2 separate regions of the Homo sapiens genome follow, and region 2 is linked to region 1. The links come from fine-mapping of genetic effects on gene expression. A gene starts in region 1. The other region holds a variant in brackets. All regions are shown on one strand. Distances are between the middles of the regions. Region 1 holds the start of FLG (filaggrin). Region 2 overlaps CCDST (cervical cancer associated DHX9 suppressive transcript).

Region 1 (4,405 bases):
AAAGAAAGAATCAATGGTCTAATAAGGTTAAGAACGAGGACATTAAACACAGTTTTAAAAACTCGGGCATATTTTTATCTCTTTGACTCTGAACAAGATTGGCACACCCTTGCATCCCTTATTTGATCATGTCCCAGGCATTGCTGTAGGGCCCAAGGACACAAAGGATGACTCAGACCCAGTCAATGCTAGGGTGAGAAGAAACACAGGATTCAAGGCACCAGGGGGCAGGGGGCACACATATAAATAAGTAATTAATATAAAATATCACCAGTGCTATTGAGAGGTAAATACAGAGTATGTGAGGGAACACTGATAAATCTGGAGATGTCAGGTAAGGCTTTATGCAGGAGGTGGTAATTTTGAAGAATCTTAAAAGATAAAGAGAAGTTAAGGATGAGGGTCTCTCAAGTCAAGGTAGTGGAGGATAGCACGCAAAGATTTTGAACAGTAGTGGACCAATATGGGCTCGTCCAAGAAATATTGCTCATTCTAGAGTGACTTTTCCATGAGATACAGGTAATAAGAGGGACAATTGAAAAGATACAGATTCATGCCTATTGTAAAGGGGCTTGTACGTCAGGTAAAAAAGTCTGAAATTCTGCAGGCAAGAAGAAACCAGCACAGCGAATGACATAAGATGGTAAGCCAGCTTAATAGTAGAGAGAGAGGCTAGTTACGACACTTTTTTTTCTTTACCAATACCCAATTGAAAGATGGTCAGGTCCAGAACTAAAATTATAGCACTGGAGGTAGAGAATAGGCCTACATAACAAAATCTAAGCCTGAGTATAATTGATACGATGTGACATGAGCATGAGGGGTTAAGGAAAAGGAGAAATGAAAATGACTTTGTCTAGCTTGAGACACCCAGTGTGTGGGGGCATCATTACCAATATATGGGCTTCTGGAGGATAGTACATTTTGGTAGGAGGCACAATGTAAGTTCAGTTTTCAACACTATGGATTGAGATAACCATGGGACATCCATATGGAGATGCAATCTGCTCAACATAACAGTGTGTATATCATAAGACAGACCAGGGATAGGAGTCCCCTGTATATTTATGGCAATAAAAGAAAATTCATGGTTTAAGAAGGAAGAGTATGTGGAACATGTCTCTGATGCCACGATGTAATAACCTTGAAAACAAAGTAAAATTACACTAATGAGTCTTGCCTAATTAAACTCATGCTCCTAGTGATCACCACTTCTAGTTCAATTGTTCACATTCTTGCTCTGCTTTGAAAAATTAAAATTAAATTTGCCTATCCTCTACTGACCATAATTTCTAGAAGACGGCATTCATCTCATGGCAAGTTCTTCAGTACCCAAAGATGGAATACATAGATTAAAAAAGAACATATATGTAGATGCTTGTGATGTTTTCCTATCATAAATTGAATTTCAAGTTCTTATAAACGTATTAATATGTCCTACTCTTCTAGAGACAAGGATCAGGAAGTGTATTTATCAATAGATATTTACCAAGCACCTGTCAAGCCAAAGTGGGGTTACAGAAAAGTAGGTATGGGCCCTGCACACAAACAACCTGTATTAGCCAAAGGGACCCTTCCATAAAATTTCCAATATGTAAACCCAAATTTGGAACTTGCTGAAACAAGTACAGATGAGTACGTGAGGAAGCTGGGAAGTAAACACAGGTTGCTGGAGAAATAGAGGTGGAGATATGGGTGGATCTAGGTTTGGTTAGGAATGAATCAGACCATCCCACAGAGGGTGGCTCCTCCCTGCATGGGGCCTGCTATAAAAGGGCCATTATCTCAGCCTTCAGTACCCAGCAGGCTCCTTCAGGCTACATTCTATTTGCTCTTTTGGTGAACAAGGTAAGAAGGAATACATTTAATTTTGTCTACTTACTATTAACCAAGGTGGAAATCTGAATGTATGTGTACTGTAAGGCAAAAGGTTCTGGAAGTTTAGGGTTTTTCTCTTTCTTTTTAGTGGCACTGTCACTAAAAGGTTTATTTCTATATAGAAGGAAAATGAGGGCATAAATTTGCTTTCCATGGAGCTACTCAATACTCTGTATTGTTAGATTGTCCATTTATTCATTTACTTAACAAATATGTATTAACTACCTTCTACTTGGTCTTGGCTCTATCTATGCAGCAGTGAACTATATAAACTCCTAGCAGCTTACCTTTAATAGGGGGAAACATTTAGTAAACAACAATAAACAAATAAGATAATTTTAAATAGTGATAAGAACAATGAAGAAAATAAAAGAGTGATGTAGTAGAGCAGGGGTGTCCCGTCTTTTGGCTTCCCTGGGTCATAATGGAAAAAGAATTGTCTTGGGCCACACATAAAACACACTGACACTAATAATAGCTGATAAGCTTAAAAAAAAACTCGTAATGTTTTAAGAAAGTTTACAAATTTGTGTTGGGCCACATTCAAAGCTGTCCTGGGCCACAGATTGGACAAGCTTGTAGTAAAGTGATGGGAGGGAGGAGGAAAGTGCTTTAAATTAGATGGCCAGGGGAAGACCTCTCTAGGGAATTATCTTTGAGTTGAGATCTTAAACACAAAAGAAACTAGCCAAGGCAAAGGGCAAGATTCTAAGCAAGAGTAAACTTGTCCCAAAGAGCAAAAAGAAGCTAGTGTGCCTTAGAGCATACATAGTTAAAAAGAGGACCAGTGGTATATGGTGATGTCAGAGAGCTAGACAGCGTAGCTCATGTAAAGAGGGGCACAGTAGAATTAAAACAGTACATGTTAGATTTTAGCATGTACTTAAAGGGGTATTAAGCAGGAGGAGTAAGATAATCTATGTTTTTAAAAGACCACTCTGGGCTGCTACGTGGAAAACAGGAATATAGGAAGGCAAGAGCAGGAGCAGGGAGAGACTGCATTCTTTTATGTGAAAGATGATGGAAATAATAGAAATAACGAGAAATAACTGTTTGCTCATACCAAAATCTAGAAGTTATCCATGATTCCTGTTTTCTCATCACACTGATTCATCACCACGTCCAGTCAACTCTGCCTACAAACCTGCCAAATCTATCCATTTATCCCCCTCTCTGCCATTATCATCCTAGTCCAGTCTACCTTCATCTCCCAACACTGACTATTATGTTATCTGAAAATATAACAATTTATTCATCCATTTGTCTATGGGTAGATACTTGGGTCTCTTCCATTTTGGGGGGTATTATAAATAATAGGGCTATGCACTTTTTTGTGTACTACTTTTGGTTACACATATGTACATATTTCAGTTGGGAATATTCCTAAGAGTAAATCGCTAGGACTTAGATACTGTCAAACAATTTTCCAAAGTGCTTCTGTCACTTTATGTGCCTCCAGCAGTACATAAAAAAAAAAAAAATCTCAATTCTCCACATTCTCACCAATATTTGGTATTGTCAAGGATTTTTTTCTTTCTTATCTTTTTAGTCACTTTGGTGGGTGTATTGAGGTCTCACACGTTATTTCAATTTGCATTTCCCTAGTGCATAACAAGGTTGAGAAGTTTTGATATGTTTATTGGCCATTTGGATATCCTTTTCTGTAACGTTCCTAAGGTATTCATTTTTCCATTGAGTTAACTGTATTTTTTATTGATTTATAGAAGCTATTTTTATATTCAGGACAGATTCCTTTATTGGTTAAATGTGTTTTGTATATCCTCCCACTGTGTGGCTTGTACATCTCTCTTCTAATGCTATCTTTAAAAGAATAAACATTCCTACTTTTAATGCAGTACAATTTATCAGTCTTTTTCTTATTAATTAGTACTTTTTGAATTTTATTTAAGTATTTCCCCACCCCGAGGTCCTGAAGATATTCTCCAATGTTATCTTCGTTTATCTCTTACATGTAAAATCAACCTGGAAACTATTTTTTTTCCATTTGAAAATTCAATTAACCCAGCACCATTTATTCAAGACTATTCTTTCTCTACTGACCTACACTACCATCTTTGCCATTAACCAAATGTCCAGAGTGATATAAGACTGACTTTATACTATTATCTTTTATCATTCCATTTGTTTAGCCTTGCATCATGCCATATTTTCTTCCTTTATAACACACCTTGCTATCTGGTATGTCTTCCAACTTAGTCTTCTTAAAGATGGTCTTACCTAATCTTAGCCCTCTACATTTTCATATAAATTTTAGAAATCACCTTATTAATCTTTATTTTTTAAAAAAACTTCAGATATTCAGAATGGGATTTCATTGCATCTATAAATGAATTTAAGGAGATTTGATATCTTAATGCTATTTAGACTTTCAGTTCATAAACAAGCTATATATTGTCCATTTATTTAAATCTTTATCTCAATATTTATAATTTTCTGAGTATAGCTCTTTCATGTTTTCTTAGATTTATTCCTAAAAATTTCCTCTTTTTTTATGCTTTTATGAATA
Region 2 (4,405 bases), 120 kb after region 1:
TGATGGCCTCTATCCCAGATCAACTAAATCCAAATTTCTAGTAGATGGGACCCAGGAATCTGTATGTTAGTGGTCCATGACCTAGTTGATTCCTTTTAGAAACAAAGTTAGGAGAATTCACATCCGTTGGCCCCTATGGAGACAACAAAACTGACTCCTTGCCCAACCACCATTATGACTAAGCATATAAAGTCGCACCATTGGAGAGGAAAAACAAAAATCTTTACAACCCTGAGATAAGCTAAAAATGAGGAAGAAGATTCTACCTAGTCTTCCAAATCAATGAAGCCTTGAGCCCTTTCCTATAAATTGCTAACTCTCTAATGTAAACAACTTCATCCCTGACTTTTGCAACACTGACACCTACAAGTATGATAATGATATGGAGGAAATTTTTTCATCCACATGAATAGACTAACTGTAATCTTGGTAGCCTGACTCCTCATTCTTTTTGAATCACTTCCCAATCTTAACAAAGAAGGAAGTAAAGTGATCTACTAAAAGGAAGATGGGGAGGGAGTGAAGCAGGAGGCTTAGAAAGATCTGAAAAGGGAAAGGTCTGAAAATTCCAGCTGAGGGGTCTGGTAAAAGAAACCACCTAGGTATGATGAAAGGGATTGCCAGGCAATATTCAGAGTGTGGGCAAGGTTAATATAATAAATGTGTAGAAATAAGCTAAGGCACCATGTATGTGATATTTGCCATCTTAACAGCCTGGCAGAAGAAGCCAAAAAAAAAAAAAAATGGAATTAGGTTAATCCCAGGTTTGAGACTGGCAGGGCAGGTACAAGGAAAAATGAAGGGTCCAAGGACACATAATGGTCTGTAGAGAAGGTTATAGGTATGGGAGGAAAAACCAGAAACCCTTACAGCAGGGGTCCCCAACCCCTGGGCTACAGACTAGTACTAGTCTGTGGCCTGTTAGTAACCAGGCCACACAGCAGTAGGTGAGTGGCAGCCCACCGTGCATTACTGCCTGAACTTCGCCTCCTGTCAGATCAGCAGCTGCATTAGATTCTCATAGGAACACGAACCCTATTGTGAACTACACCAGGAGGGATCTAGGTTGCATGTGCCTTATGAGAATCTAATGCCTGATAATCCAAGATGGAACAGTTTCATCCCTAAACCATCCCACCCCCACTGTTCTCCCATCCATGGAATAGTTGACTTCCATGAAACCAGTCCCTGCTGCCAAAAAGGTTGGGAATTGCTCCCTTACAGGCCCCCTCCTTGGCCCAAACTATATGTGTGTGAAGGGACGGATAATTTTATAGCCAAATTTCCCCTAGGCAAGACCTTACACTCTCGACTCCATTATTGTAGGAAAGATGGGCCTTGTTAGCAGTAGCAACTTTTCAGGTAAAATAAAACTAACAATATGGAATATACTAGGAGCTATGTACCAATGTCTCATTACTTACCCCTTTTTTGCCTTCACAATAACTCTTTGATGCAGAGATCCTTAAACTTCTCCTCAGTATGCAAATTGAGGTTATAAATCCAAGGACACACAGCTCACCTATGATGTAGTTCAGATTTGAACTCAAGTGTGACTATGAACTCATTCTCAATCTACTAGCCCACAGTGACTTCACCAGAACAGCCAGGCTCCACTTCACAGAAAAAGGAAAACAGCATCATTAAAGGAAAACCAGATTTCTAAGAGCAAGGGATGGCAGGGAGTAAGGATATAGGGATATTTCTTGGCAACAAAACCAAAGAGAATGAAACATAATGTAGGATAATTAGCAGTGAGAGCACAGCAAATAAAAGGCAATAAGTAGCTGTAAATATTATATCTGAAGGCATGTGTGCATGGGGAGTAGTGGAGGTGAAGCTAAGAGCCAAGTGGAGAAGGAAGTGAGAGGAAGAAAGTGAATTTAGCCCACTCACCATCATTATCTCTGACATCTCTCAAAGGAAGTAGAGTGGGAAACAAAAGGAGATTAAAGCAAGTTTGTCTAGATAGGAAGATTCATCATGCCTGGCAGGAGGGGGTCACTGTTATTGCAACCTTTAACCCAATCCTTTTCTCTTCTGCCCACTTTGGGGAGTGATCTGGGTGACTTGGTTTGTTCTTTTTTGAGATGCTTACCAATTGCTGACAACAATCACAATGCATTATAACATGATTGAGGCCCACAACTTCAAAAGTGTGATGATGGAATCCTAGATAGATATGAAAGAAGGCAGGAAGGGGACTGGCAGACTGAAAAAATAGAGACAGGATAAGGAACAGATTTCTTTGAAATGTGCATACCCTGTCTACCAGCAGTTCTACTCCTACTCGTATACCTCAGAGGAGTTTG[C/T]ATGCAGACATACTTCATTTTATTGTGCTCCACTTTATTGTGCTTCACAGACTGTGTGTTGTACAAATTGAAGGTTTGAGGCAACCCTGTCTGGCAAGTCCATCGGCACCATTTTTCCAACAGCATGTGCTCCCTTCATGTTTCTGTGTCACATTGTGGTAATTCTCACAATATTTCAAACTTTTTCACTATTATTATATCTGCTATGGTGATCTGTAATAAGTGATCTTTGCTGTTACACTTGTAATTGTTGAGGGCACCACAAACCTTTCCTATATGAAACAGAGAGTTTAATCGATAAATGAGTGTTCTTACTGCTCCAGTGATCAGCTGCTCCCCTTTCTTTCTCCCTCTAGTCAGGCCTATCTATTCCCTAAGATACAATATTGAAATTACGCCAGTTAGTAACCAGACAATGGCTTCTAAGTGTTTCAGTGAATGGAAGAGTCACATGTCTCTCACTTTATTTTATTTATTTATTTATTTATTTATTTATTTATTTATTTATTTGAGACAGAGTATCACTCTATTGCCCACGATAGAGTGCAGTGGCAAGATCTCGGCTCACTGCAACCTCTGCCTCCCGGGTTCAAGCGATTCTTATGCCTCAGCCTCCCAAGTACTGGGATTACAGGTACAGACAACCATGCCCTTCTAATTTTTAAATTTTTTGTAGAAATGGGATATCATTATGTTACCTAGGCTAGTCTCGAACTCCTGGCCTCAAGTGATCCACCTATCTCGACCTCCCAAAGTGCTGGGATTACAGGCATGAGCCACCAGGCACAGCCACATGTCTCTCACTTTAAATAAAAAATAAGAGCTGGGCACGGTGGCTCACACCTGTAATCCCAGCACTTTGGGAGGCCAAGGCAGGCAGATCACCTGAGGTCAGGAGTTCAAGACCAGCCTAATCAATATGGTGAAACCCTGTCTCTACTAAAAATACAAAAATTTACCAGGCGTGGTGGCAGGCACCTGTAGTCCCAGCTACTCGGGAGGCTGACACAGGAGAATTGATTGAACCTGGGAGGCAGAGGTTGCAGTGAGCCGAGATCATGCCACTGCACTCCAGCCTGGGCGACAGAGCGAGACTCCATCTCAAAAATAAATAAATAAATAAATAAATAAGATTAAACTTAGTGAGAAAAGCATGTCAAAAGCAGAGAGAGGCCAAAAGCTAGGCCTTTTGTGCCAGTTAGCCAAGTTTGTGAATGCAAATGAAAAATTCTTAAAGAAAATTAAAAGTGCTACTCCTGTGAACACATGAATGATAAGAAAGCAAAACAGCTTTACCACTGACTTGGAGAAAGTTTTAGTGATCTAGATAGATCAAACCTGCCACACCATTATCTTAAACCAAAGCCTAATCTAGAGTAAGGCCCTAACTCTCTTCAATTCTATGAAAGCTGAGAGAGGTAAGGAAGTTACAGAAGAAACGTTTGAAGCTAGCGGAGGTTGGTTCATGAGGTTTAAGGAAATAAGCCATCTCCAGAATATAAAAGTGCAGGGTGAAGCAGCACATGCTGATGGAGAAGCTGCAGCAAGTTATCCAGTAGATCTAGCTAAGATAATTGATGAAGGTGGCTACACTAAACAACAGATTTTCAATGTAGATAACACAGCATTCTATCAGAGGAAGATGTCACCTAAGACTTTTATAGCTACAGAGATGTCAATTCTCTGGCTTCAAAGCTTCAAAGGACAGGCTGACTCTCTTGTAAGGGACTAATGCAGTTGGTGACTTTAAGTTGAAGCCGATGCTCATTTACCATTCTGAAAATCCTAGGGCCCTTAAGAATCATGCTAAATCTACTCTGTGCTGTATAAATGGAACAGCAAAGCCTGGATGATGGCACATCTGTTTACAGCATGGTTTACTAACTATTTAAGCCCCCTGTTGAGACCTACTACTCAGAAAAAAGAGATTCCTTTCAAAATATTACTGCTCATTGACAATGCACCTGGTCATCCAACAGCTCGGATAAAAATGTACAACGATGTTTTTCCTGTGCCTGCTAACACAACATCCATTCTGCAGCCCATGGATCAAGGAGTGATTTCAATTTTCAAGTCTTCTTATTTAAGAAATA

What was found. PIP is the estimated chance that this variant, and not a neighbour inherited with it, causes the effect. A credible set is the group of variants that fine-mapping cannot tell apart.
Region 2: its variant is the best candidate, but not a certain one, in a credible set for the expression of FLG in prefrontal cortex (CommonMind, PIP 0.65).

What each region holds. Positions count from the first base shown.
Region 1 is chr1:152,322,632-152,327,036 of GRCh38, reverse strand. FLG (filaggrin) reads left to right here and starts at 1,798. Exons shown (of 3, transcript NM_002016.2): 1 at 1,798-1,848. The region is part of intron 3 of CCDST (cervical cancer associated DHX9 suppressive transcript); the gene reads right to left.
Region 2 is chr1:152,200,587-152,204,991 of GRCh38, reverse strand. The region is part of intron 1 of CCDST (cervical cancer associated DHX9 suppressive transcript); the gene reads right to left. Among named protein-coding and RNA genes, the nearest start is that of CCDST, 13 kb to the right of the region's middle. The variant C/T (reference allele first, on the strand shown) is at 2,313.